7 separate regions of the Homo sapiens genome follow, and all the other regions are linked to region 1. The links come from fine-mapping of genetic effects on gene expression. A gene starts in region 1. Each other region holds a variant in brackets. All regions are shown on one strand. Distances are from middle to middle.

Region 1 (4,068 bases):
CCGAATGGAACTTCACAAGTTCGAATTCACTGGGTCACAGTGTGATAGCGTGAAGATGGGAGGACGTTAAGGGAAGGCTATGGGTGAGTTGGGAAATGTGTTAGGCAGGGTCAGAGATTACCACATCCTAAAAACAACACTTAAGGCGGGAGATGACAAAACAATCAATGAATAACATGACTTTTTCCAGTGAAAGTGCCATATCTAATCCTTTTCCATTTTTGTTCTCTGAGCTTCTTTCTTAGGGAAGATCCTTCTTGAGAAGCCCCTGCTGAGTATTAGGAAAATGCATTTCAGGACCTCTCATCAACACACCCTCTTTCTTTACCACAACCACATATATGGGGGCATAACTCAACATGTGTAAAAGACAATCTTCTGCTTTTCACTGAACCTCCAGGAATTCAGGACAATAAACCTCTACATGCAGACCAACAGGTGAGTTTTTCTGCCCCTTCTTTCATAACACCGTTCTTCCCTAGTGAAGTCCACACACATCCTTACATGGCAGCTGTGGGTATATCAACTGGTCTGACCCCTTTTAGTCACAGAGCCTGAAGTCTGCTAGTACCTGCTGAGCACAGTGTCATGGGTGAGAATGGGCAAGGCTTTTTCTTTCTCTGGTTCCTGAACTTCCCAGGCTCTCTCACTTCTGGATCCTGAATACCCAAATCCCAAGCTTCCTTCCCAGAACCAACACCTCCTCCTCATTAGAAAGATACCTTTGTTGTGTGCTTACTTTATAAAGTCTTGCTCTTTCCCTGTCCACTGCCTTGTGTCACTATGTGTGTGTCTTGGGGCCGGTGGAAAGGTGAACAGAAGCCAGTAGAGAGTAACAAGCACCAGCTTCACAGGAATGGCATGACCTTAATACGATAGTGGCAGTTTTCCCTTAACATCCCTGCCCCCTAAAGATTTCAGATCATATGTCACACTCTTAAGTAACAGCGATTTGTCTTTCACGGTTTTAATCATATTGATTAAAAGCATTTGTCTTCTCCAGAACATCACATTAAGTCATCAAAAAATATAAACCTTAAAAAGATGTAATTATTGGAACTGAAAAACATAAAAGGTGAGCTTTGGAAATATCTTTGAGCAGTCTATTCATTATGAACACATGTAATCTGTTGGAACAAAGTTCTAGGACAATCCAGGTCATCCTTCAATATTTGCAGAAAACAGCACAAAGAAAACTTGATACTTAAACTTAGTTGGAAACTTTATGCCACAGCCATTAAATACAGAGATCATATAAAGGAATAGAGGAAGCTGTTGAATACTAAACTAACTCAAATCATCATTATCCTTACGAAGTGCACACTGAATTAATGTAAAAAGCATTTAGTAAACAAAAAGTATTTTCAATATACAATTAAGACTGAAAAGTATTGAGGCCTCATAAGCTGAACCTGACACAATAAATTTAAAAGGGAAACTAATTTGGAAATCAGAAAACCATCTAAAGAATTTGGGAATTAGGCTTCTGCTGCCCTCTCTGCTACTGACGGTCAAGGCCTCCTCATTGTATTCTGTCCTCCATATCTCTGCTGATTCCCATTTTGTCTATTTCCATTTACCCCACTACTACTTGCTCAGGTCACTCTCCTTCATTGTCGGTGTTTGTTCAAATTCCTCAGACCCATCCACTTCCCATCTAAACTTCCCTCCCCTTTTCTCGCTCGTTGGCTCTACCTCCCTCCTCTGTTTTCTCCTCACTCTCCTGCCCCACCTCGACATCCACAGCGAGGCAATGAAGAAGCCCCTGCCAAGGAAGAGCCCGCTTCTCAGTGGGACACCGGGAAGGTAAACACCCAACAGTCACCGCTAGTGGGAGGCGATTGTGCAGAAGCACGAGGGTTGTTACAGGATCGGGCAGGTCCCCTACCCCAGTCTCGGACTCAGGGTCCTGTCTGAGGCGGCCACCCCGAAGCGTGGGGTTTGCGGAGACGTAGGGCCTGGCGGAGGGAAGGATGGGGAAGCATCTCAGGGAGGACTGGCGTCTGCCGAATCCCAGGGCTGCCCTGAGGGGCCAAGAGGGGCGAGGGTGGGGACGATGGAAGACAAGCCACATGCCGAATCGGGACCTGAGGCCGCGCGCGATAGGATGGGCGGACGGTGAAGAGAACTAGGGTGGAAGGGCCGGACAGGGGCGACCTCAGTGACGGAACCGGACACAGACGCAGATCTGGCAGCTGGGCGACAGGCTTCGGAGCATTTCCGGGCGTCGCGGGACTCCCCGCCGACAGGAGGGCGGTTGCCGAGCCTGTGACATCCGCGGAGACCAGCAGACCCCGGGTGTGGAGGACGCCGCAGGAAGGGAACTGCGTGGCTGGGTTTGGCCACAAAAAGCGGAGGGCACTCACCCGAGCGGACCTCGGCTCCGGAGAATCCGTTTCCGGGTCAACAAAAAACGTCGCGCGAGGGGCGGGGCCCGTACGTGCAGGGAGGGGAGGCAGAGAAAAAGGCGGGGCCGGGCCGGGGCGGGGTCTCGGGCAGGGGCGGGGAGCTTACCGACCTCCCGCCCCCGCTGCGCGCGTTTCTGGCCCTGCCAGTGTCTCCGCCGGTTGAAAGCGCGTGTCTGCGTCGGGTTCTGTTGGAGTGCGTTCGGTGTGCCGTGGGTCCGCGCTGCTTCCACCCAACTTCCTGTTAGGTAAGAGGCGCGTGAGGCTCCTGTGCCGGGGGCGGTGCTGCTCCCGAGTCGGCGCGCGGCGGGGACGCGAGTCCGTAGGTGCTGGCGGGAGCGAGAGTCGGGTGGGGACCCTCGCGAGCCCGCACTCCGCCTCTGGGTAGCAGCCTCTTCGGCCCCACACGGCGTGACGCGCGCTCGGGCTCCGCGTTCGCGTCGAGGCAGAGGCGTAGTAGGGGTCGGGCCCAGGGCTGGAGGGGCCGGGACCGGGCGGGGTGCCGCCCTGGACACCGCGCCGGCAGCTGTTCCGCGCGGGTTCATGTCATTCCTATTTTCAACCTGTCCTGCTCCGCACCTGAGATGATTTATAAATTCGGTACCTTTGGGACAGGCGTGGATGACATCCCATAATTTACTTCGTTATTAATTTCTAAATGTAATACATACCACTATCTAAAAGTATTTTTTAATTTGAAATATATTTGTATACGTATACATGTATATTTATTTATTTCTGAATTTTATCTCGTACATATAATGAGGCTCGTAAAGTGGATACTGTTCAGGACATAGGTGGATTTTGCTTTTAAGTAGTAAAGACTTAATTGGTGACTTACTGGGGCTATTTGATAAGGATTTTTTTTTAATGAACATTAAAAACAGTGAAATTGTATTTCCGGATTTCGTTAGCTTCATTTATATCTTAATTGGTGAAAACTGTAAGTTAATAACTCATTTTTATTTCCTTTGGAGATTCTTAAGTTTGTGCTACCAATGATTATTTCCAAAAAAGGCACACTTCTGGTTTTCCCAGAACTAATGCTAGCTTCTCAATCTTTTGAGTTTACTTGATATTAATGTTTGACCTCAAATCATGTCACATTTTTGAAGAAAACTTTCTCTTAGCCAATGGAACATAAACCACCCTGGAGTTCATATAGAGGAGGGGTTCAAATGCCTCTGATAGTGTCGTGTTAAAACTCATGGCCAAACGCAAGGTCACATAGCTTTCTTTCTATGTTTCCCTCTAGAATTTGTATAGTTTTGTCATTATAAAATGGGTCTTGTCCTAGACCCCAAGAACAGGTTTTTGGATTTCACATGGGAAAGACCTTTTGGCAAGTCACAGAGTATAGTGAAGTTAAGATAGTTTATTAGTGACTACTCAGCTACATAGCAGGGCGTCCTCAGAAAGCAAGAGGAGAAATGCACCTGTTGTAAACATATAATTTTTTTTTGAGACAGAGTTTCTCTCCTGTCACAATGGCATGGTCTCGCCTCACTGCGACCTCTGCTTCCTGGGTTCAAGGATTCTCCTGCCTCAGTCTCCCAAGTAGCTGGGATTACAGGTGCGTGCCAATATACCCGGCTAATTTTTTGTGTTTTTGGTAGAGACTGGGCTTCACCATGTTGGTCAGGCTGGTCTGGAACTCCTGGCC
Region 2 (4,068 bases), 21 kb after region 1:
AACTTGAATTATTTATGTTCAGTAATTAATGTTTTAGTATTGTATCTTATTTATAAATGGTCTAGATATTTAATGCAAATCTTTTACTTAGCTTAAGTTTAAGGTTAAAAATTAGCAAAAGTAGTTTGGAAACTACTATTAGGCAGATTTACTGTGAACAAATTATTTTTGAAATAATGTTTTTCGCTTTTCACAAGACGGCACCGAAAGCGAAGGAAGCTCCTGCTCCTCCTAAAGCCGAAGCCAAAGTGAAGGCTTTAAAGGCCAAGAAGGCAGTGTTGAAAGGTGTCCGCAGCCACACGCAAAAAAGAAGATCCGCATGTCACTCACCTTCAGGCGGCCCAAGACACTGCGACTTCGGAGGCAGCCCAGATATCCTCGGAAGAGCACCCCCAGGAGAAACAAGCTTGGCCACTATGCTATCAAGTTTCCGCTGACCACTGAGTGGGCCGGAAGAAGATAGAAGAAAGCAACATGCTTGTGTTCTTCGTGGATGTTAAAGCCAACAAGCACCAGATCAGACAGGCTGTGAAGAAGGTCTATGACAGTGATGTGGCCAAGGTCACCACCCTGATTTTTCCTGATAAAGAGAACAAGGCATATATGTTCGACTGGCTCCTGATTATGAAGCTTTGGATGTTGCAACAAAATTGGGATCATCTAAACTGAGTCCAGCTGGCTAACTCTAAATACATGTGTATCTTTTCACCATAAAAGAATAATGTTTTTCATAAGAGTGACAACTTAATTAGAATCAAATCTATAAGCTTTAAGATTTTACATTTCTGTAAGTATAATATTAGCTTATTTGACTAGAACTCAAGCAGAATAGGAATTTATGTTTGTTTTATATTCAAGTGATAACTTTGAAGACATAGTTTTATTACACCAAAAATTTTATATTAATCTCATTTAAGTAAGTTTTATCCAAATCATGTTAACTTAAAAAACATTTGATCAGTTCCTATATTTCTAGGAGTTTGGTGAATATTTATTTATAAATGGTTATTTTTTTCCAAGCCAAGTTAGAATAGAGCACTTTTATAGGATTTTATAAATGAATTTTGCAGTGCTATCCGGAGTTAAGAAAATATCACATATACATTACATACAGTAATAGATATACAAACACAAATAGAGATTTCATAGCTTTCATCCTGAAATTTCAGCCATGAATCAGGCATAAATATTCTGATGGTTAATTTTAGACATCTACTTGATTGGATTAAGAAACATACATAGCTGGTCAAACAATTTCAGCCATGAAACAGGCATAAATATTCTGATGGTTAATTTTAGACATCTACTTGACTGGATTGAGAGACACACGTAGCTGGTGAAACACAATTTCTGGGCATATCTGTGAAGGTGTTTCTGGAAGACACTGAGATAACCCTGACCCAGTGTGGATGGGCACTGATATGGTTTGCCTGTGTCCCCACCCAGATCTCATCTTGAATTGTAGTTCCTATAATCCGTACATGTCGTGGGAGGGACCCAGTGGGAGGTGATTGAATCATGGTGGTTGTTACTGCCATTCTGTTTTCATGGCAGTGAGTGAGTTCTCATGATCCAATGGTTTCATAAGGGGCTGTTCCCCTTTGGCTCAGCACTTCTTCTTGTTGCTGCCATGTGAAGAAGGACGTCTTTGTTTCCCCTTCTGCCATGATTGTGAGGCCTCTGCAGCCACGTGGAACTGTCAGCCCATTTAACCTCTTTGTTCTTTATAAATTGCTCAGACTCAGGTATTTCTTCACAGCTGTATAAAAATGGATGAATACAGGCACCATCCAATTGGTTGAGAGCCCAGATAGAATAACAAGGAAGAGGAAAGGTGAATTATCTCCTGAAATTGAAACATCCTTCTTCTCCTGCCCTTGACATCAGAATCAGTGTCTCAGAGCTTTGGCCTCAGAATCAGAGTTACACCATTGGCTTCCCTGATTCTGAGTCCTTTATATCTGGAGTGAGTCATGCT[G/A]CCAGCTTTCCTGGTTCTCCAACTTGGAGACAGGCTATTGTGTAACTTCTCAGCCTCCATAATTATGTGAACCAATTCCCCTAATGAGTCTTCTCTCATCTATCTACATATATCCTATTGATTCTGCCTTTCTGGAGAACCCTGACTAATGTTATTACAATAATACAAAATTCACTAGTTTATATAGAAGACTTGGTTTTTGTCTTTGCCCCATTTTGTATTTGTATTATAACTGTGTATCTGGAAAATGGAACAAGTTTTTATCTTCTTCATATGAGGGCCAAAGCTTTTTTCTCACCAATATTTTTGGAGATTTTTAAGATTTTCTTTTGTTTGGACATACAATCTTATGGAGGCTGAGAAATAAAATTTTTTCTATTTTATTTTTCAGCCCCAGATGTTTGCTTTTGCAGATTCTTGAGCACATTGAGAGCATGGAGAGCACTCCAAGGCATGGAGTGGGGTGCCTAAAGTTTCAGTGATTACAGGGAGTTGAGAGACTCAACTGGGAAAGGAAAAGTCTAAAAGGAGGCAATTTGGAAGATAAAAATTTTCTCAAAGGAGCGATTAAATTTCTAAATAATTCTTAGTAAAATCATGTAAACAGGAAAGGAAATAGAATTAGTTCCATATTGGTGGAACACATAGCAGAGGTTTGAGAAGGGAGAATTTAGTCAACTGAGAAGTTCTCATGAAAGGAGCAAGTTCAAGATCACAGAGACACCTTGAAACAAAAAGCCAGGAATAACTTCCAACCCAAGAGGAGAACAGAGAGGCCTCAAAACCAAAGCTAGGATAAGAAACTTGTAGCCCAAGAGTTATCTTCCAGACAAAGAAGCCTGAGATTCCAACGCAGCTTCAGAGAGTGCTCACTCAAAATGTTACTGAAACTGAAGGCTTTTTAATGACTTAGCCATGCCTGCAAAAGGCATTCCCTAAGGTGGCACAGAAGACGGAGCCCCCATATCCAAAGATAGCCAAGGAGAAAGAAAGACCCCTGTTGCCAGAGCCAGTGGGCAAAGGCAACAGAAAAGGAGACAAGGGTCCTAATGGGATGAGATCCTTTCGGATTTAGGCTTTTATACAAACTCCTGAGAACTGGCGGGTTGACAGCCATAAATGGGGTACCAAACTTTCTACTCATTGGATTACAAGTTCTCAGGCATCCAGAATGATGAACAAAATGACAATTTCTAGGGCTTCTGTGGGAGAGTATGGAAAGGTCTTTTTGAACCTTTTAATGCTGTCAACGGAAGAATGATGAGGTTCATAAATTTGGAAAGGAGACATTTCTTCATTTTTATGTTTATTTTTATTTTTTTTGAGACAGAGTTTCACTCTTGTTGCCCAGGCTGGAGTGCAATGGCGTGATCTTGGCTCACTGCAACCTCCACCTCCTGGGTTCAAGCGATTCTCCTGCCTCAGCCTCCTGATTAGCTGGGATTACAGATGCCCACCACCACACCTGGCTAATTTTTTGCAGTTTTAGTAGAGACAGGGTTTCATCATGTTGGCCAGGCTGGTCTGAAACTCATGAGCTCAGGTGATCCACTTGCCTTAGCCTCCCAAAGTGCTGGGATTGCAGGCATGAGCCACCCAACCAGTGAGAGATTTATTTCCTATAAAGGGTTGTAGCCTGCAGGGTTGTCCTTCTGACAGGCTGGGAAGCATAGCCTCCAGCCAGAAGCCAGAAACAGACTCTTCAAGGAGGAGGTAAAGGAAATAGCAATTTATGCTGACTGGAATGGCCAAATACATTTATTTAATAAGCTCCAGGAGGAGTCATGAATATTTATGGAAGGAGAAATGCATGCATGCACAATTGAGTTTCTGGCTTCTTCATGGGTCCCATGTACAAAAAATGGCAGTGTTAGCATGATCCCAGGGTGGAGTTTTCAGCCCTCTGACATTAAAAGGTGAAGCAGAGGACATGAAAACTCGCTCTGTGCATCCTCTGTACGCTGGCCAGAACCTCTCTGTTGTGGGTGGTCTCTTATCAGGCAAGAAAGGAGAGGTTGATATCGGTAGTGGAGGCTTTGAAAGGGCTGGTTTCTGTTAAATCCTTAGGGAAGAAAGCCTCATCATGGTTA
Region 3 (4,068 bases), 28 kb after region 1:
GCCCTGAAGTTGCCCTAGTTGCCAGCAGGGGGCGCAATGGCACAGCACCGTGGGCAAGCAGGTCCTGTAGTGCCCGGGTACAAGCAGGGGGCACCCGAACCGGGCTTTTCAGATTACTCAGGTTCCACCCGTCTGTGCGCTGCGCCGCCGGGGACGTGTGTCTCTGCGCCTGCACCTCGCCATTCCCGCGCTCCCCGCCCGGCGGCGTGCAACTGTACACCTGCAACACGCCCCGCCATCCTGAGCCCAGCGACGTGCGTCTCTGCGCCTGCGCCTGCGCCGCGCCTCACTCCCGCCCGCCCAGCGACCCCTCCCCTCCGGGGACGCGGAGGCGTGCGTCTATGCCCTGCGCCGCGTCTCCCGAACAGCTCCTGCGCCGGCGCGCCGCGCCTCTCTGCGCCAGCGCCGGCGCGCCGTGCCTTTGCGAGAGCGGAGTTGGGTTCTCCTCAGCACAGACGCGGAGAGCATCGCGAGGGCGGAGCTGCGTTCTCATCTGCACAGATTTCAGTGGTACTGCGAAGGCGGAGCAGAGTTCTCCTCAGGTCAGACCCGGGCGGGCGGGCTGAGGGCACCGCGAGGGCGGAGCTGCGTTCTGCTTAGCACAGACCTGGGGGACACCGTAAAGGTGGAGCAGCATTCTCCTAAGCACAGACGTTGGGGGCACTGCCTGGCTTTGGGACAACTCGGGGCCGCATCGACGGTGAATAAAATCTTTCCCGGTTGCAGCCGTTAATAATCAAGGTCAGAGACCAGTTAGAACGGTTCAGTGTGGAAAACGGGAAACCAAAAGCCCCTCTGAATCCTGCGCACCGAGATTCTCCCAAGTCAAGGCGAGGGGCTGCATTGCAGGGGCCAACTGCAGTGTCGGAACACAAATGCAGCATTCCTAATGCACACATGACACCCAAAATATAATACCCACATTGCTCATGTGGTTTAGGGTTAGGGTGAGGGTTAGGGGTTAGGGGTTAGGGTTGGGGTTGGGGTAGGGTTAGGGTTAAGGGTTAGGGTTAGGGGTTAGGGTTAGGGGTTAGGGTTAGGGTTCGGGTTCGGGTTCGGGCTAGGGGTAGGGTTAGGGTTAGGGGTTAGGGTTTAGGGTTAGGGGTCGGGGTCAGGGTCGGGTTGGGGTTGGGGTTGGGTTTAGGGTTGGGGTTGGGGTTAGGGGTTAGGGGTTAGGGATAGGGGTTAGGGGTTAGGGTTAGGGGTTAGGGTTAGGGTTAGGGTTAGGGTTAGGAGTTAGGGGTTAGGAGTTAGGTTTAGGTTTAGGGGCTAGGGTTAGGTTTGGGTTAGGGTTGGGTTAGGGGCTAGGGTTAGGGTTAGGGTTGGGTTATGGTTAGGGTTGGGTTAGGGTTAGGGTTTGGGTTAGGATTAGGGTTAGGGGTTAGGGTTAGGGTTAGGATTAGGGGTGAGAGTTAGGGTTACGGTACTGTAAATAATTTCACATTATTACTAATAATAAATTATTATTTGTATTACACTGTTACGTAATGTAAACGCTATTAAGACATGTTTTTCTTCAAAGAATGGCCTTGGTTTCTGTGGGCTGTGCCTCGTCATGGAAGGGTAATGCATTCCTGCTAAATC[A/G]TGGACAAAACGGGCTTCCAGGAGCTACAGGCCCCTGCAGCAGCAGCTTCTCCTCTACGTCCTTCACTGCCTCAAACTGTTGTTGACTTTGAAAGCTTCTTTCAGTCTAGTTTTATCAACAGAGCTAGTATTTCATGAGGTTCTACTACATACCAGGTTCCAGAAAGCTAAATGCCTTTTGTTATTATTCACTAAATACAAATCACAACTCTCTCCTCATTACTCACACAACAAAATTTAGCTGAGGGAGATTGAGTGACTTTCCCAGGGTCACATAGCTACTAAGAGCAGAGTCGTGTTTAGATTCATGTGGGAATATTGAACACAGAAATGAACCAGTGGAAACATCCTATGTTCCAAAAGCCTACTCAAGGCATTTCTTCTTATTTTAAGGAAAATCTTTATGCTAATTTTAAACTCCAAATACTTATGAATGGCAGAGATCTACAGATTTGATTCTGATGTAAGAAATGATGGTCACCAGCTGGTTACTGCTACCACCCCACAACCCCGAGCATACTGGACGAATGTCTAAGCCTTGTGGTTAGTGGGGACAATGCTGGTGGAGTCTGAAGTTGTCATGCAGTGACTCATGCAAGCTTAGGCAGATTTGGTAATATATGACACAGAGATGCAAAGAAATGTTGTAGCTGACACACACAGGCTGGCTCTGGGAGATGCAGAAGGAGCACGTCACCCAAAATAGAGCCAGACAAGACATCCTTAAGGAAGGAGCAAAAGGGCTGCATCTTAAAGAATGTAGAAAGGATTTGTCATGAGAGATGGGGCAGGAAGTTCTTGAGAGGCAGAGGGAGAGCATGAGAATGTTAGGAAGGGAGGAGAGATTCTCACACATCTGGGAAGCTGACAATCCATCAGCATGGCCAGAAGGAAAATAAGGAGGAGGAGCAGAAATAGATGAGGCTGGATATAGAAGCAGGGCTGAAGCTGTGTCGATTGTGGTAAAGAGTTGTGATTCTATCCAGAACGCAATAGGTAGCATTCTAAACAGAGATCTTTTCAAACAAGAGTCAGCAAGTATTTTCTGCAGGAGGCTAAATGTTAAATATTTTAAGTTTTCCAAGCCATATGGTCTCTCTCTCAATGACTCAGCTCTTCCATTATACCATGAAAGTAGCCAGAGACATTATGTAACACATGTATTGGCTGTGTCCTATTACAACTTTACTTACAAACGCAGACTGTGTCAGACATGGTCCATGCATGGTAGTTTGCCACACCCTGTTTTAGAAAGCTCAGGTTTATGATGTGATGGAGAATGCCTACAAGAGCTCTTGTTTTAAATGGTAGAGTGAACATACACTGGAATTCTATCCTGCTTGACCCAAGCTCTTGATAGCAAAAGGTAGAAAAGATAGATGGTAAATAGATAGATAGATGATAGATAAAGAAAATACATAGCTGTTCCAGAAAACAGAAATGGATAACTTCATGAACCAAAAGCAGAGTAATATACTTTAGAAAGGAAGCGGGCCAGAAAACCCACAGTTGCAAAACAAATAGAATTTCCAACTGCCTCTTGTAGCCCCTTCCTGGAAGTAGTCACAGCCCAGGGTGTTTGACTTCTTCCTCTGTTTTTTGTTTGTTTGTTGTTTGCTTTTCTGTGGGGTTTTTGTTGTTGTTGTTTGCTTTTAAAAAAAAATTCCCTTTCCCTGCTTTTTTGTCACAGCAGCCTTTGTCACTTCAAACACCGCAAGTGTTCTTTAAAAAAAATTATATCAACCTTTCAATTAAAATGCAACATGTCTGAAACTTGGTATCTGGAGAGGTGAGTTGGACAAAGGAGCCCTTGTTACTGCACGTTTTCATTCTTCAAATTTCACCTTGCACACAGTAACAGACAGTGCACAAAGCCACTTCCTTATGGACGGAAATTCTGAAATCCTTTTATGCCTGGCCTTTCCATCCTTCAACTTCCCCTCTCCCACGCTGTGAATGATTGTATTGGACATTTTTGTTTTAATGTCAGTGACAGGGGAACACAGGTAGCTCTAATATAGCTGTGACCCAGATGCTTCTGTTTCTAGCATGTATTTATTTTGCAGCAAACATTTACATCCATGATGTTTCACTGTCTTTTGAAAATAATTAGGCAATATCTCATCTGAGGTAGGTTGTTTCTAGGGATTGTGTTCTGAGGGAGGAAAACTAATCTGTTCTCTTTCCACTGCATTCTAGGAACAGTAAGAGGACCTTGTGCATGAATAATTTGTTTCCACACTACAGAGTGGGTAATAAGCAGATTAGTAAAAACAATTCTGCTTCACTTCAATAACAGCTTCCTCCAACTCATTTTTTCTCAACAAACTTATTTTTCCAGCAGAAGAATCCCAGACTTCTTAGAGAACCCAGTGACTTTTTGTACCTTAAATCTGTGAAATCCTCCTGTTTTCTTCTGCCGTATCCATAGTTCAAACAAAGATGAGGCAAAGCTAGATGCATTCCTGAAGGAACCCAAGAAAT
Region 4 (4,068 bases), 730 kb before region 1:
AGTCAGATATTCCCAAGTTACAACATAAACAGAAGTCACAAATCAGACTCTGCCTGAAGTCACCAAATTAAAATTCAAAACTGAGGGAACACAAAAGGAAAGAAAAATTGGGAAGACAGGTGAATAACAATGTGTGTGCATCTGTGTCAGCATGAGGGCAAATGAGCACGTGTGTGAGTGCATTTGTGTATCAGGAGAGAAGCTACAGACTAAATACAGTGAAGATACTGACGTAAAGAAAAACAACATCATAGTCATCATGAAGAAAACACCTGTTTGTTATACTTTCAGTTCTAGGGAGTTTAAAGTATTTATATATATATATATATATATATATATATATATATATATATATATATATATATATATAGTGGTGTTCAACAAAGAGGTGTATATATATATATATACATATATATATATACACCTCTTTGTTGAACACCACTTTTGGGATCCTTTAAGATTTTATACAGTAGTAAAACAAACCTCTTTCAGCAATAAATGTACATAGGTATTTGTACATTTCTCAGAAATCCACAACCCATCCAAGAAAAAAATCCACAATTTAAGTCAAATTGTGCATTGAAATGTTGAAATAGCCATGCATGTCAAAATTTTGAACTTTTCCTCTTGCTCTGAATTGAATTCTAGGTTTCACATCCTTATCTTTCCATACAACTATTGAACACGAATAAATCTGAAATTCATGAAGGCATCCAAACAATTAAGGGCATCTTAAGCCTCAGCAACAGCTACTTTTTCTTAGAATCAAATGAGTAAGAATAATCTACTCACTCTCAAAACCACAGGCACCCAAAGCCTAAGCGGCACAGAATTCTCAAGTTCATGCCTTATCTGAACCTTCATGTTCGAAAGGGATATGCGCTTAAGCTGGGCTCATTCCCATTTTCTTCAAACTAGAACAAACTTTAGGAAAAACTAACATGGGGAAAGAATCTCACTGTCCATCAGTAAGGAAGTGTTTAAACGTGTACAGTGTATGAGCACATGACACAGGCAGTGAAAGCACGAATGTCAGCGATGGCCCAGCCACCTCTCCAAGGAGCCTGTGCTGGAAAGACATCTGTATAATCAAGAAAGGTAAATACACAAAGAAGTTTATTTCAGCATTCATTTAAAAGAAAAGTAACCCAAATGTCCACATGACACATGTGATGGAGCATCCATATTTGCAATGTCACGCAGCCACTCAAATGCAAGAGACACATCAATGGCCAGTAGATTTATCTGATGTATGTCAAGTGACAAAAGGCACAGTGAAGCACAAAATAAGCTCAGGATCAATTTGTGAGAAAAAGAAGTATATTTTACATACAGACACATTTATTTTACAGGCGTGGAAATAAAGCTGGAAGAAGGTTGACCATCCTAACAACAGTCATTTCTAGCGTAGGAAATGTGAGGAGAGGCAGATGCTCACTCTCAGTCCATTTGCTTCTATGTGTTTGAATAAACCCAGATGTAAAAGACTCCACCAGTAGCAAAAACCGTGAAAGAGGATAAAAGATAACACCCATCACATTTTGTTAGAGGGAAAAAGAAGGTTACAAAGCAGTGTGCATAGCATAAACTAATCATTACCAAAAATACTTATTCATCCATTGTCATTTTTTAAAAAGTTTGAAAATTAAAAACTTTTAAAAAAAAGATATGAAAGCATTCTCAAAGACCAAATGGATATATTTAGAGTTACTAACTCAACTACAGAAAAAGATGTTTGATTCACCCTAAAACTTTCCTGCGGAGTTGGTTTGAAATGGAAGCTTCCTCGATACTTATCTTTTTAAATGATATTTTAAAAAATCATCTTAGTCATGATTTATCAGAAACATGTCATCCGTTTTCTCTTTCTGATCAAGTGTTCAAAGTTACATT[C/T]ATGAAGCTTCACTCATTCATACCCCAACGTGGACAACTGGTAAACACTTCCTGGGAAAACGCTGCCTGGAACAATCGCTGAAACTCAAATTCCTATGGATTCCCACAACTGGCTCCACTGGTCCAGATGTTACAGCTGCGTTTACTGTGCAAGAAACGAGGATGATGCCCCTGCTCTGGTCTCAGCGCGTGACTGACCTCATCAGGGAGTCTGGCGAGAAGCTGTGATCGTCCCTCAAGAATGGCGCTTGTCCTTGGGAGACCACGGGGGTCACGGCAGAGCTGAGAGTCCCCGTCCTCTACACTGGCTCCAGCCCAGGAGAAGGGTACCTGGCTGCTTGCAGACTCATGGTAGCTGTCCTTGCCACCACGCTCCTCCTCAGGCTCAGGAGCCACATGCGGTGGTGAACAGCGCTGTGTGCATGCGGGGGTCGGGCTCTGGAGCCGCGTGTGTGATGAACAGTGCCGTGTACAGCGCAGGGGTCAGACTCAGGAGCCCTGTGTGGTGAACAGTGCCGTGTGCAGCGCAGGGGTCAGACTCAGGAGCCGTGTGAGGTGAACAGTGCCGTGTGCACGCGGGGGTTGGGCTCAGGAGCCGTGTGAGGTGAACAGTGCCGTGTGCAGTGCGGGGTCAGACTCAGGAGCCCTGTGTGGTGAACAGTGCCGTGTGCAGTGCGGGGCCAGACTCAGGAGCCGTGTGAGGTGAACAGTGCCGTGTGCACGCGGGGGTTGGGCTCAGGAGCCCTGTGTGGTGAACAGTGCCGTGTGCAGCGCAGGGGTCAGACTCAGGAGCCCTGTGTGGTGAACAGTGCCGTGTGCAGTGCGGGGTCAGACTCAGGAGCCCTGTGTGGTGAACAGCGCTGTGTGCATGCGGGGGTCGGGCTCTGGAGCCGCGTGTGTGATGAACAGTGCCGTGTACAGCGCAGGGGTCAGACTCAGGAGCCCTGTGTGGTGAACAGTGCCGTGTGCAGCGCAGGGGTCAGACTCAGGAGCCCTGTGTGGTGAACAGTGCCGTGTGCACGCGGGGGTTGGGCTCAGGAGCCGTGTGAGGTGAACAGTGCCGTGTGCAGTGCGGGGTCAGACTCAGGAGCCCTGTGTGGTGAACAGTGCCGTGTGCAGCGCAGGGGTCAGACTCAGGAGCCCTGTGAGGTGAACAGCGCCGTGTGCATGCGGGGGTCGGGCTCTGGAGCCGCGTGTGTGATGAACACTGCCGTGTGCAGTGCGGGGTCAGACTCAGGAGCTCTGTGTGGTGAACAGTGCCATGTGCAGCGCAGGGGTCAGACTCAGGAGCCATGTGAGGTGAACAGTGCCGTGTGCACGCGGGGGTTGGGCTCAGGAGCCGTGTGTGCGGTGGCGACAGTGCCGTGTGAACGTGGAAGTCGGGCTCAGCGAGCGGGAAGGCAGTACCCCCCGGAGCATGGCCACAGGCGGAGCCAAAGGCCATCGCAAGGCCACCAGGATCCGAGCCTGGCAGCGCTGGAAGGGCTTCCAGTAGAATCTGCACAGAGCAGCAAGAAGTGTGGCCCTCGGGGGAGGGTAGGTGGAGGCGGTGCCCACCCTTGAGAGCAAATGTCCAAAGGCCTGGGCCCCTTGGGTGTGGGCAGAAGCCACACTGGGACCCCTGAAGAAGGACCAGGCCTTGGTGAGGAACATTAGGAGGCCGAGGCCCCAGGATGGGACAGACACTTGCCACGCTCTCTGGCTTCCCGCGTGGGGAACACGGCAGATACCAGCAACATTTCCCAAGGACTCTGTTTACGTTTCAAATAAACAGCTGAACCTGGAGATAGGCACAGCATGTTAGAAATAATTGTTCTTGACTTACGATAGGCTTTGAATAAAAGGCTGGGTCCTCTGCGACTCTGCTCTGTGGGAGAATTGTGTGTCTACACAGAAAGGTCTTCAACGCAGGACAGCAAGTGACAACTGCGTCGCAGCAGAGTCCACGACAGTACAGCGCCACCAGGGCTGCGTGCATAAAAACATGCGGGAATAGCCCTCTGTGAAGCACTTTTTCATTACTGGTTTATAAACAGAGAGTCCACCTAGACACAGGACTATCATGCTTCAAATTAAGGTGAATCCCTGAAGACGTCAGATAGGTTCAAAAATTTGGGGTTTAAAAACAGCTTTATGTCTCCCTGAATGTATCACGACATAGAATACAAGGGAAGC
Region 5 (4,068 bases), 22 kb before region 1:
GGTACCAGTAGAGTGGGATGGTGCTGAAAAAATAGCCGAAAATGTGGAAGCGACTTTGGAACTCGGTAACAGGCAGAGGTTCTAACAGTTTGGAGGGCTCAGAAGAAGACAAGAAAATATGAGAAAGTTTGGAACTTCCTAGAGACTTGATGAATGGCTTTAACCAAAATGCGGATAATGATATGGACAATGAAATCCAGGCTGAGGTGGTCTCAGATGGAGATGAGGAACTTGTTGGGAACTGGAGCAAAGGTGGCTTTTGTTATGTTTTATCAAAGAGACTGCCAGTATTTTGCCCCCGCCCTAGAGATATGTGGAACTTTGAACTTGAGAGGGATGATTTAGGGTATCTGGCAGAAGAAATTTCTGAGCAGTATATCATTCAAGATGTGACTTGGGTGGTGTTAAAGGCATTCAATTTTATAAGGGAAGCACAGTATAAAAGTTCAGAAAATTTGCAGCCTGGTGGGTTACTGACACAGTGCAGGCCCCTCCCACTGCGGCAGCTGAGCCTACTGGCAGGGCAGCCATAGTGTCACCACCTTATGTGACACCCACCTGTCTGACTGGCCGACCAGTGGGTTACAGGCCCCCCCTGTGCAGGACCCACCCTTTGTGGCAGTTAAGTCCACCCAAGCTGAGGTATCCTGGCGAGATCTTCACCTGGGTCCCATGGGGAAAATCAGTCAGCACCATATGTGCTCTGGTGGACAGGTGAGTGTCCCTTATGCCCCCATCGCCATAGTATCAGGAGAACTAGGAAATGAAATAAACGTCTTTGGCTAGAGCATGTCCTTGTCACCCCTTCCCTGAGTACTTTCTCTTCGGACTCCATTGTGTTGTTCCATTAGTTATTTTATTTTCAGTCCTAAAATGTGTGCAGTCTTATGTTTGGTTTTACCTTTCTGTTAATTGTTTGGGGACGATTAAGGCAGGATACTTGGTTGTGAGAGATCCCCACTGTTTTTACTTCGGGATGCTAGAGTCATGTTGTTTGCTGACCCCAATTTGGTCTTGGATTGACTGTTGGCCGCATTCTGGGTGCCCCAGGGTTTTCAGGATTTGGTGAAGGGACCCTTGTTGGCTGAAACTTGGGCCTTCTGAGTTTTCAACATTGGTATTCTGGCCACCCCCCATATGATCTGGAGTATTTGTGTTGACATTCCCTCTAGGATTCTGAGGGATATATGAGTTATAGCCCTCTCCCTAGGGGAGTATTGGTCTTGCCCTTTTCTGCCCTATAAGTTAGAAGTATTTTCCTAATAGCAAGCTGCTAACCCTTCCTTTATGCTGTCTTCCAACTAGCTTGCTCAAGCCACTCTTGGTCCAAGGAAATGGGAATTCCCAGGCCCCTGGCATAATGGAGAGCCACCTACAGTGGTAGGCAATTGGCCACGTGAATATTTTTTTCAGTGTCTCTGCTACGGGATAGGTTACCCAGCAGGTCAGGGCCTCTGAGGTCTCCCCTTGGGCAGCACTGTTTACCTCTTCCATTTCTCCCTTCCACAGTCCCTCCCTTCCATTTTTGAGCCCACCTCTCTACCAACCGTTGCTGTCTGTGGCATTTAGGTTCAAAATCCAACTGCCCATTTGAAGCTCATAATCCACTTTTTAAAAATTATGCTTTAAGTTCTAGGGTACACGTGCACAACCTGCAGGTTTTTACACAGGTATACACGTGCCATGTTGGTTTGCTGCACCCATCAACTTGTCATTTACATGAGGTGTTTCTCCTAATGCTATCCCTCTCCCAGCCCCCACCCTTGTCAGTCCCCAGTGTGTGTGTGATGTTCCCCACCCTGTGTCCATGTGTTCTCGTTGTTCAACTCCCACCTATGAGTGAGAACATTTGGTGTTTTGTTTTCTGTCTTTGTGATAGTTTGCTTAGAATGATGGTTTCCAGCTTCATCCATGTCCCTGCAAAGGACATGGACTCATCCTTTTTTATGGCTGCATAGTATTCCATGGTGTATATGTGCCACATTTTCTTAATTCAGTCTGTCACTGATGGACATTTGGGTTGGTTCCAAGTCTTTGCTATTGTGAATAGTGCCACAATAAACATATGTGTGCATGTGTCTTTATAGTAGCATGATTTATAATCCTTTGGGTATATACCCAGTAATGGGATCACTGGGTCAAATGGTATTTCGTGTTTTAGATCCTTGAGGAATTGCCACACTGTCTTCCACAATGATTGAACTAATTTACACTCCCACTGACAGTGTAAAAGCCTTCCTATTTCTCCACATCCTCTCCAGCATCTGTTGTTTCCTGACTTTTTAATGATCACCATTCTAACTGGTGTGAG[A/G]TGGTATCTCATTGTGGTTTTGACTTGCATTTCTCTGATGACCAGTGATGATGAGCATTTTTTTCATGTGACTGTTGGCTGCATAAATGTCTTCTTTTTAGAAATGTCTGTTCATATTCTTTGCCCACTTTTTGATGGGGTTGTTTTTTTTCTTGTAAATTTGTTTAAGTTCTTTGTTGATTCTGGATATTAGTCCTTTGTCGGATAGGGTAGATTGCAAATATTTTCTCCCATTCTCTAGGTTGCCTGTTCACTCTGATGGTAGTTTCTTTTGCTGTACAGGAGCTCTTTAGTTTAATTAGATCCCAATTGTCTATTTTGGCTTTTGTTGCCATTGCTTTTGATGTTTGAAGGGGTGGCCTTCCCCTCCACACCTGTGGGTATATCTCACCAGGTGGGATGAGAGATTGAGAAAAGAAATAAGGCACAGAGACAAAGTATAGAGAAACAACAGTGGGCCCAAGAGACCGGCACTCAGCATACAGAGGACCTGCACTGGCACCGGTCTCTGAGTTCCCTCAGTTTTTATTGATTATTATTTTCATTATCTCAGCAAAAGGAATGTGGCAGGAGAGCAGGGTGATAATAAGGAGAAGGTCAGCAAAAAACATGTGAGCAAAAGAATCTATGTCATAATTCAGTTCAAGGGGAGGTATATGCCTGGATGTACACGTGGGCCAGATTTATGTTTCTCTCCACCCAAACATCTCAGTGGAGTAAAGAATAACAAGACAGCATTACTGCAAACATGTCTCGCCTCCCACCATAGGGGGGGGTTTTCTCCTATCTCAGAATTGAACAAATGTACAGTCGGGTTTTATACTGAGACATTCAGTTCTCAGGGGCAGGCAGGAGACAGTGGCCTTCCTCTATCTCAACTGCAAGAGGCTTTCCTCTTTTACTAATCCACCTCAGCACAGACGCTTTACAGGTGTCGGGCTGGGGGACGGTCAGGTCTTTCTCATCTCACGAGGCCACATTTCAGACTATCACATGGGGAGAAACCTTGGACAATACCCAGCTTTTCAGGGCAGAGGTCCCTGCAGCTTTTCGCAGTGCATTGTACCCCTGGTTTATTGAGACTAGAGCATGGCAGTGACTTTTACCAAGCATACTGTTTGTAAACATTTTGTTATCAAGGCACATCCTGCACAGCCCTAGATCTCTTAAACCTTGATTCTATACAACACATGTTTTTGTGAGCTCAAAGTTGGGTCAAATTGGCTGGGGCAAAGTTACAAATTAACAACATTTCAGCAAAGCAATTGTTTAAGGTACGGGTCCAAATTGAATTTCTTATGTCTTGCCTTTCTACATAGACACAGTAATAGTCTGATCTCTATTTCTTTTCCCTACAATGTTTTAGTCATGAAGTCTTTGCCCACGCCTATGTCCTGATTGGTATTGGCTAGGTTTTCCTAATCTACTTTTGTAACACCTTGGCAACTATAGAAAGTGGGAAATGAAAAGGGAAAAGTAAGTATGCATTTGCTAAACTTAGGCTAACTAAAACCCCTTGTAGTGAGCCTTACTAGACATGGGGACAACAGTAAGCATTCAAAAAGACTCGCCACTCGGGTGTCATTTAGGCCATTGGAGTAGCTTCAAATTATTAGACAGGTTGAAAAAGAAAAACCTTGTTTACTATTGCAATAATGTTTGGATTCAATAAAAATTGATAAACCAACATATTTATTCTAGACACGGTTCTTTACATTATAATGATATCATACAGTTAGATTTGTTGTGTGAAAAGG
Region 6 (4,068 bases), 48 kb before region 1:
GACTCTAACGTGGAGTGTGGACTCTGTAACGTGGAGTGTGGACTCTAACGTGGAGTGTGGACTCTGTAACGTGGAGTGTGGACTCTGTAACGTGGAGTGTGGACTCTAACGTGGAGTGTGGACTCTAACGTGGAGTGTGGAATCTGTAACGTGGAGTGTGGACTCTGTAACGTGGAGTGTGGACTCTGTAACGTGGAGTGTGGATTCTGTAACGTGGAGTGTGGACTCTGTAACGTGGAGTGTGGACTCTAACGTGGAGTGTGGACTCTGTAACGTGGAGTGTGGTTTCTGTAACGTGGAGTGTGGACTCTGTAACGTGGAGTGTGGACTCTGACGTGGAGTGTGGACTCTGTAACGTGGAGTGTGGACTCTGTAACGTGGAGTGTGGATTCTGTAACGTGGAGTGTGGATTCTGCAACGTGGAGCGTCTCCAATAAGGCCCTTTCCAGCACAAACAGCAAGGCTGGGACAGCTTGTTCTTGTGCCTAACAGAGAACCTTCTGTCTGAAGACTGGAGAAAGAGCTCCAGTGAGATTTCCTGTGAGGTGTTGGTTCACGTGATCGTGAAAGCTGCAATGTCCCACAGCCTGTCATCTGCAAGGCAGAGATCCGGGAAAGCCAGTGGCTTCGTTCAAAGGCCAAAGAGCCAGAAAGCCAAGGGCAAGAGAAGACTGGCGTTCCAGCCCCACCATCAGGCAGAGAGGGAATTCAACCTTCCTCCACCTTTTGCTCTATTCAGGCCTGCAGAGGATTGGATGAGGCCAGCCCATGATCTTCACTCAGTCCACTGATTCAAATGCTCATCTCTTCCAGAAACACCCTCACAGACACACCCAGAAATCATGTTTTAACGGCTATCTGGGCATCTCATGGCCCAGTTAAGTTGACACATAAAATTAACCCTCACATGAGAACACACCTTCAAATTCAGGTTGTTTTTGAATGCCTGAGTATGGTGTTCTAAAAAGCATGTGCATATGAGGTATTAGAATGAATACATGCTTATTTAAATTCCACAATAGAACATGTAAATTAGTATTTTATTTGTCTTAAATATATCTTTAATATAAATATGCCTGTTACATAAAAGTTCCATCATTTCATAGAATTTTGTGGTCTCAATTCAGTCCAACCTAATTTAACTATAAAAATTTTTTTGAAAACTTAAGTTACAGGGAAGGAAAACTAAGACAAATGCAGCCATGACTTGCAACGAGTTTACAAATCAGTATAGGAAGAAACACATGTGCACAGAAGGCCGTGATACGGACAATGCTTGTCAGAGTATTCTGAGGGAGATCTTTCCAAAATAGCTCTGATTATGAATGTCCAAGGTCTCTGCATTGTCTGCAGGAGAAGACCGAACCCCCGTACGGCCTCCTACAGAGACATTCACATCAGAATCCATTTTCCTTCTCCGTCTTCTTTCTTCTCCTCATCTACAGTCAGGACCCTTTAGGTTTTAGCCACACCCAGCTGCTCACAGATCTCTCAAAAATCATGTTCTCCCATTTGTCCTTGTGTGTTTAACAGGATTGCTTTACCCTAGAATTCTTGTCTTCTTTTCTACACTGAGCATGCATCAAAACTTATTTCAGCATTACCCACTTCCCCAGGCAGGGTTTGTCTTTTCCTCTCTGGCACTTCCTAGCC[G/A]CATTGTGTGTAACTGTTATAGATTTTCAATATAAAATTACAATGATTCATTTATTCACCTGCTTTCCTTGGCTGAGGAATCCTCGGGCCAGGGCCACTCTACTGACGCTGCAGCTCACTGAGGAGCCTGGGTGCACCCTGAAGATGCAAGGCTGGGGAGTGGGGGTGAGTGCATGGCTGAAAGGGCCTCAGGAGCAACCTTGTTCCTCCTTCTTATGCTGTTCATCATGATGGTGTTCAGAAACCTTTCGTCTTGGCTTCACCTGTCAGAACAGTGCCCTAATCTTGTTCGTTTTTCCTAGAATACTGGTGCACAGAATAATGGCCCCAAAGGTCCCTAATGGCCCCCTACATCCTAATCCCCAGGATCTGTGAATACGCTATCTCACTTGGAAAATGGGCTTTGCAGATATGACTAAGTTAAGGATCTTGAGATGGAGATTATCGGGTTATCTGGGTTTGTCACACGGGTCCATACAGGAGGAGGCAGGAGAAAGGTGTGGGGAGGCAAGCAGAAGTCACAGTTGGTCACTGAAGGTGCTGCCCTGTGGGCCTTGAGGATGGAGGAAGGGCACGAGCCCAGAAAGACGGGCCCCTCTGGAAGCTGGAAAAGGCTGGGAACAGATTTTCCCCCAGAGCCTCCAGAGGAACGCAGTGCTGCTCACACCTTGATTTCAGGACTTTTGGCCTCCAGAACTGTAAGAACACTAAATTGTTTAAACTATGAGTGTGTAGCGACTTTTTACAGCAGCTGCAGGAACTAACCCAGCACCCATGTCTTGCCTCTTCTGAGCTGCTCTCCAGCGTCCCTGCTCTCAGGGTTCCATGGCCGATACCATGCACAGCACTCCTGTGAGGGAGGAGGCATAGTGAACATACTTGCTTTGTGGTTAGAAGAGTTATTTCATAATGTTAGTGGCAAAATAATATCAAAAGTACAGTACAGTCAAGAACTTTTGGAGAAGACGAGATTTCTGGAGAGTTCTGGGTACCAGAAAGTCACACCGAATTTGAGTTGGAGGAATGACTATATTGGACACAATTTACGACGATGTATTATTTTCCTTTGAATGCATGAGAATCTATACTTCGCAGAGTTTTGTAGAGCTAAACATAACATGCATCTGATCTTTTCTACAATTAACCCTGTTCTGAGTTTCCTCAGAGAATTAAAAGCACATTTAAGAGGAATTCTGGGAAGGTGGTAGCAATGTTCTGTTGCTTGCGCATTTCCCCAGATTCTCCCAGAAACATACACAGACTAGATTTTATAGCAAAACTAAGGACCCATTGAAATACCTTCAACAGAACCTGGGACAAAGTACCCTCATGAACCCCACATATGGCAGGGCAGAGACAAACAGTACGGCTCAAAGCTCTGTGTCGAAGAAAGCTGGGAAGGGAAGTATGCTTCTGATGGCCCCACAAACAGAAGCACCTCAAGATGCCAAAAGGAATTCACGGGGAAGTGAGGTATGAGCACAGGGTCTGGCCCAGGAGCTCCTGAAGGACATAATTTGTAGCTTTGCCAAAGGGAGCATGAATGGAATAGGATCCCAGTCACGGAGCCATCTGCTTCCTACAAACTCCTGTACTGAGCACATCCCTGCCCTGCAGAAAAACTGCCAGGAACACACTCAGATCCAAGTCGAGCAGGAGCAGGACAAGCACAACACAGCAAAGGAAGGAAACACCACGCCAGACTGGGGAGCGGGGGAAGGCTGGTTTCTGAACGCACAAGGCCAAGTTGTCCCTGTGGAAACAGCAGAAACTCCGGAGCTGTGGCACTCAGGAAGCTATCCCAGCCTCCTGCCCTGTCTTGCACGCTCAGGAAAGCAGATAACAACCACGGGAAAATCTACACGAGCATTTTCAAATCCCCCCCCACGATAAAAGCAAGTCAGGAAAATATAGATTTTCCTGAATATTAAAAAGAAATCACTATGTTAACAACTATAACAATAATGATGAAAGCAAACAAGTTAAAAAAAACAAACAAACGTTAAGTTAGACCACCTGGAGGCAAGGTGGGCACTTACATGGTGGGTAGTTTAAGTGAGTATTTTACTTTCGCATCATTGAGAATCAAAATTTTTGATATGATTGAAAGGCAATCGTTGTGCAATCGACGAGGTTAACTCGAAACACTGTATTCCTGAATTTGAATCACCCAGTATGAAATGACTAGCTCTAGCTAGAAAAAAAACTAAAAACAGGCATGAAGTCCAGATCAGTGAACACCTCGTGAGTAGACTGTGGTCACTCATGGCCTCTCTCAGCAAATGACCTGTGGCTTCTGGAGAAATGCGTGGTTCCAGGCCTGAACCAAGCGTGTCCCAGCTGTGCCTGCAACAGCACACCACACCTGAAGGAACAGACTTATCAGAGACCGCCGAACTTACCTCCAAAGGCTCA
Region 7 (4,068 bases), 92 kb before region 1:
AAGTTACGTCCCACCTATCATGACAATTTCATTAAGGAAAAAGTCAAACCACTTTGGAAATGATTTAAGTGAGCAACTTGGAAAAATTTCCTACATTCCTAACTTACTTTCCAGGGGATTGTTCCTGACTTAACATCTATCAGGTGTCTTAGCTTAGCTCTCTTTTTACTTCAGGTTTTTCTTGCTTCCTCAGTGTGCTGGGAGTCCCACTCCACTCAAATGCCCTCAGGTCTAATAATTAACTTCATTGCGGGCTCCTGGAAGGCCTGGGTGGGCGGCAGCTGCATTGTGCTCCTGAAGAAGATTTAAGTTGGGTTTGGTGAACTGGTAGAATTTGCATTTTGCTGTTTCTTTCCCTCTCCCAGAATTGGTACCTTTAAATAGGTTTTTTAGTGTCATTAAGTATATCAAAAGGAAACCCAGTGGGGCAAAGTGGCCGGGCTCCATAGAGGTGGCCTTGTCTAAGCCTTTCATCTTATCGATAAGGAAAGACAGGTCCAGAGAAGTCGCCGACTGTCCCTGGTCCCACTGCTTGGTTTGGGGCAATTTCCTGAAAATAATATCCAAGATGCAAGGCATATGGCTCTGGTGAGATGTGTGTGAGGAGCTGAGAATGAGACGGCTGAGTGTCGGGGGCAGATCACGAAGGGCTGTGCTCACCATCAGGAGGTCTGGACTTCGCTGTGAAAGACACAGACCCTCATGTACGTCCAGGATGCGGTGACAGTGAGGCTTGCAGGAGACAGGTCCCTGCTGTGTGGGGGTGAGGCTGGAGGCAAGATGATGCCTGGAGCTAAGAGATGGTCACAGGAAATCTGGCAAGAATTAACAAGGACTGGACAGTGACAGGCAGGCCAAAGAGTGAGAGGAACTTCACTGGCAAGAGCCAACAGGGCTTGTTGATTTAGGAGAGGAGACAAAGGACTGAGGGGTTTCTGGGCTGGGGGGCTGGGGCCTGGGAGGGTGGAGAAGCCACTGTCTGCATTATGGGATGCAGGAGGAGAAGCATTCAGTTTTCCACACAATGAGTTCCCTGAGAGGTGTCTCAGTGGGATCGTGGTGCAGTTGGAAATGTTCAAGAGAAAGATGAGAAGCGGCACCAGCAGCAAACATCCAGGAACCCAGAAACCATCAGCACAGGTGCCTGCTGAGTCCCATAGACCCACCATGGCCCACCAGGACCAACCAGGAAGCAAGTGTGGAGCTGGGAGTGAGGGAGCTGGGTGTGGAGATCAGGGGGAAGACTGTCATCCAAAGGGCGAGAGTGGGAAGGATGGAGTCATCTGTAGCTAAAGGGAACCACCATTAGTCAGTCCTTGTGATGAAGGTGCAGGATGTTCCTGCTTCCGTGCACGTCGCTCTTGGGCTGTGGGCAAGTTTGGAACTGCTGTTGTTCCCCAGCATAGTCTCAAGCGAGTGGAATGACGGTTTCCTATAGAAGCACAGTTCCTACAGGAAAGAAGGCGTGGTTAAGAGCATGAGGGCCAAGGAAAAGGAGGGGATTAGAGATAGCCAGCAGTGAGGGAGACGGTTCCAGATACGAGCCGAGTGGGCAAAGCAGGGAATTCAAGAGAGAGAGGAGCATATATTATGCAAATTTTAAATTTTTTGGTAGCAAGCAACCTAGCAAATCTAGCTGAATCCAAAGGGGATTTATTGGCTCACATCATAAAAATCTAGTGAAAGATTCTAGCTGAAGTCATAACTAGATATACGAGTTTAAATAATTTTGTGAGAAACTGTTTCTTTGCTGTTCATCCACCTATCCATCCACCCATCTATCCAACCCTCCCTCCCTCCATCCACCCCTCCACCCACCTACTCACTCACCCGTGTCTTTATCCATTGATCCACATGCACATCCATCCTTTCATCTCTCCTTTCCTCCCTCCCCCATCCCTCCACCCCCTGTTCACCCACCCATTCATCCATCCCTGCATCTTTCCGTCC[A/G]CTTCTCTGTCTTCTTGTCTCTGCTTCTCTTTGTATTTTGTTCTCACTATTCTCTATTTCATAAGGCTTCCTGAAAGCGGCATCCATTTATTCCTTGTAGCAAGATCCCTAGAGAAAGACTCATAATTTATCTCTCAGTGTTCATAAACTCTCAGGGCAAATTTTATTTGGCCTGACTTGGATCACCTGCCAATATCTGAACGGATTGCATACCCAGGTAATGGAGTATTTTAATCACTGCAGAACCCCCACCCTCACCTGACCAGTGCCCCACAGCAGGACCACGAGCAGGGCCAAGGTGTCTCCAAGGTGCTGAGGAGCTGAGCGCTCAGCCAGCCCACGGCCACGATGGTGTGCCGCCGAAGCCACGCGGCTTACTTCACAGCCAGGATCCGGGATCAGGCTATGTCCCATGCAGCCTGATGAAGGGTAAAAAAGAGCCCAATGCAGAGTGCTGGGGAAGCATAGAGAGAGCCGGGGCACCTGACCCAGCCTGGGACAGTCAAGGGTGACTGCCGTGCAGGAGGTGGCATCTGAGCTGTTCCTTAATTAGAAAGCCTGGCACAGAATGAAGAATGCATTCCTCAAACTGAGTCAGGGTGCAGGGATCCACATGACCGTGCTCCTCTTATCCTTAGGAAGGGACAAGAGACTTCTATCCTTTGGCCTGCAGCTGCTGAAATGACCCTTGCAAGTACTGAATCATCTTTAATGAAAAAATACACTAATATGCTGCAAATTTGGAGCTTATCCTTTCAGCCCAATCCATGGGGAAGGTGTGAATTAAAGACCCTGTGCGTGTGCTGGAGGCATCGTGGACTTTTGTTCACGATTTCCTTTCCTTTTGATGCTTCAGTTATGGTGGTTGCAGCTCTATAAGCTGTGTGATATGGGCAATTCCTCTCACCTTTTGACCACTATTTTTCTTACTAATGAAATGAATACATACAAGAATACTTGAAGATTAAATAATGAAACATCTGATACTCACAGGCACTACAGTATTGGCTGAATTCTTAAGTGACTATAGGACACCTTTAAGCATGTTCTAGGGCAGGATAACCAAGGACACCATCTCACGTGCCAGGAAATGAGGGGCCTGTGTCCAATAAGTCCCTGGCTCCACGTAGCTCTGCTGTTGCCCACTTCTCTTGGACCCTGGTTGTGGTCTTGCCTTGCCACGGGGCCTTTGCTGGTGATACTCCCTCTGCCTGGAGTACCTCCATAATGTCCACTGCTGGGGCCTTGCCCATATTCTCTACACGTGGCACTGCAGTGCCCCCCCAGCCAGCTCCCAGGGGCCAGTGCCCCAGTTCCTTGTCCAAGGTCTTTGTCCCGCAGCTAAAACCCAATCTGCTGCCACCGGCTCCATCCACAGGCAAAAGTTCCAGGGAATAAATGCGTCAGGGCACAGCCCTCAGGAGACCTTGGTTACGGACATCTATCCGGCTCCTCGCCCTCTGGGGTGAATACATCTCAGGTGCATTCTTTTGGGTGTTTGTTTTTGCTTTTGTTGTTTGCATTGGCTCCCAGAGTCTGACAGTGGCAGAAGGCTGCAGCTGCCCACAGTGGTGACTGGTTTTAAGCGTACCCTTTGTTGGCCATCTTCCTCTCTCCTGGAAATAAACAGCCTGCACTCCAATCCTTGTCACAGGGTCAGCTCCTGAGGGATCTTCTTGGCCTTGCTAATGCTGGCTTATCCTTCAGAATTTAGCTTCCATTTTCACTTCTTCATGGGAGTCTTCTTGAGTATAGTCTCCTCATCATGTCTGCCGCGTCTTCCTGAGTCAGGGAATATCTCTTAGGCCATATCTATTATAGTCGTGGTCTGACTTATATTTGTGGTCAATTTTTTTCTCTTAATTTTTCGTAGAGACGGGGTCTCACTATGTTGCCCAGGCTGGTCTCAAACTCTAAGTGATCCTCCTGCCTCAGCCTCCCAAACTGCTGGGATTACAGGCTTGAGCCACCAAGCCTGGCCTATGTTTGTGGTCTCTTTGACTAAAAATGATCTTTTCTTCTAACCTGAAATCTCCTGAGGGATGAAACTTTGTGTCTCTTTGGTTTATCCCAGCATATAAGTAGTTACACTTTTTTGAATTAACAAATGAGCACAAA

Alleles and levels. Positions count from the first base shown, and alleles are read on the strand shown. Sizes are in standard deviations (SD) of each study's normalised expression. Not every link is listed here.
As copies of G replace A in region 2, the expression in lymphoblastoid cells of the gene that starts at base 2,326 in region 1 goes down (large effect, 1.7 SD a copy in GTEx).
For the expression in skeletal muscle of the gene that starts at base 2,326 in region 1, G is the low allele of the variant in region 3 and A is the other (moderate effect, 0.53 SD a copy in GTEx).
As copies of A replace G in region 6, the expression in aorta of the gene that starts at base 2,326 in region 1 goes down (small effect, 0.20 SD a copy in GTEx).
For the expression in pancreas of the gene that starts at base 2,326 in region 1, A is the high allele of the variant in region 7 and G is the other (large effect, 1.0 SD a copy in GTEx).

The links.
Region 2: its variant is fine-mapped to the expression of ZNF596 in lymphoblastoid cells (GTEx, PIP 0.98).
Region 3: its variant is fine-mapped to the expression of ZNF596 in skeletal muscle (GTEx, PIP above 0.99).
Region 4: its variant is fine-mapped to the expression of ZNF596 in sun-exposed skin (GTEx, PIP above 0.99).
Region 5: its variant is fine-mapped to the expression of ZNF596 in blood mononuclear cells (TOPMed, PIP above 0.99).
Region 6: its variant is fine-mapped to the expression of ZNF596 in aorta (GTEx, PIP 0.97).
Region 7: its variant is fine-mapped to the expression of ZNF596 in pancreas (GTEx, PIP 0.96).

Annotation. Positions count from the first base shown.
Region 1 is chr8:230,714-234,781 of GRCh38, reverse strand. ZNF596 (zinc finger protein 596) reads right to left here and starts at 2,326. Exons shown (of 6, transcript NM_001042416.3): 1 at 2,088-2,326. It also overlaps the pseudogene RPL23AP53. RefSeq lists an enhancer at 2,120-2,439 and a silencer at 2,460-2,559.
Region 2 is chr8:209,840-213,907 of GRCh38, reverse strand. It overlaps the pseudogene RPL23AP53. Among named protein-coding and RNA genes, the nearest start is that of ZNF596, 21 kb to the left of the region's middle. The variant G/A (reference allele first, on the strand shown) is at 1,979.
Region 3 is chr8:202,605-206,672 of GRCh38, reverse strand. LOC124902051 (a long non-coding RNA gene) reads left to right here and starts at 1,393. Exons shown (of 2, transcript XR_007061161.1): 1 at 1,393-3,832; 2 at 3,926-4,068. The variant A/G (reference allele first, on the strand shown) is at 1,585.
Region 4 is chr8:964,119-968,186 of GRCh38, reverse strand. The region is part of intron 2 of DLGAP2 (DLG associated protein 2); the gene reads right to left. Among named protein-coding and RNA genes, the nearest start is that of DLGAP2, 230 kb to the right of the region's middle. RefSeq lists enhancers at 2,249-3,082, 2,036-3,235. The variant C/T (reference allele first, on the strand shown) is at 1,894.
Region 5 is chr8:252,374-256,441 of GRCh38, reverse strand. No RefSeq gene overlaps it. Among named protein-coding and RNA genes, the nearest start is that of ZNF596, 22 kb to the right of the region's middle. The variant A/G (reference allele first, on the strand shown) is at 2,312.
Region 6 is chr8:278,433-282,500 of GRCh38, reverse strand. No RefSeq gene overlaps it. Among named protein-coding and RNA genes, the nearest start is that of ZNF596, 48 kb to the right of the region's middle. The variant G/A (reference allele first, on the strand shown) is at 1,654.
Region 7 is chr8:322,468-326,535 of GRCh38, reverse strand. No RefSeq gene overlaps it. Among named protein-coding and RNA genes, the nearest start is that of FAM87A, 59 kb to the left of the region's middle. The variant A/G (reference allele first, on the strand shown) is at 1,951.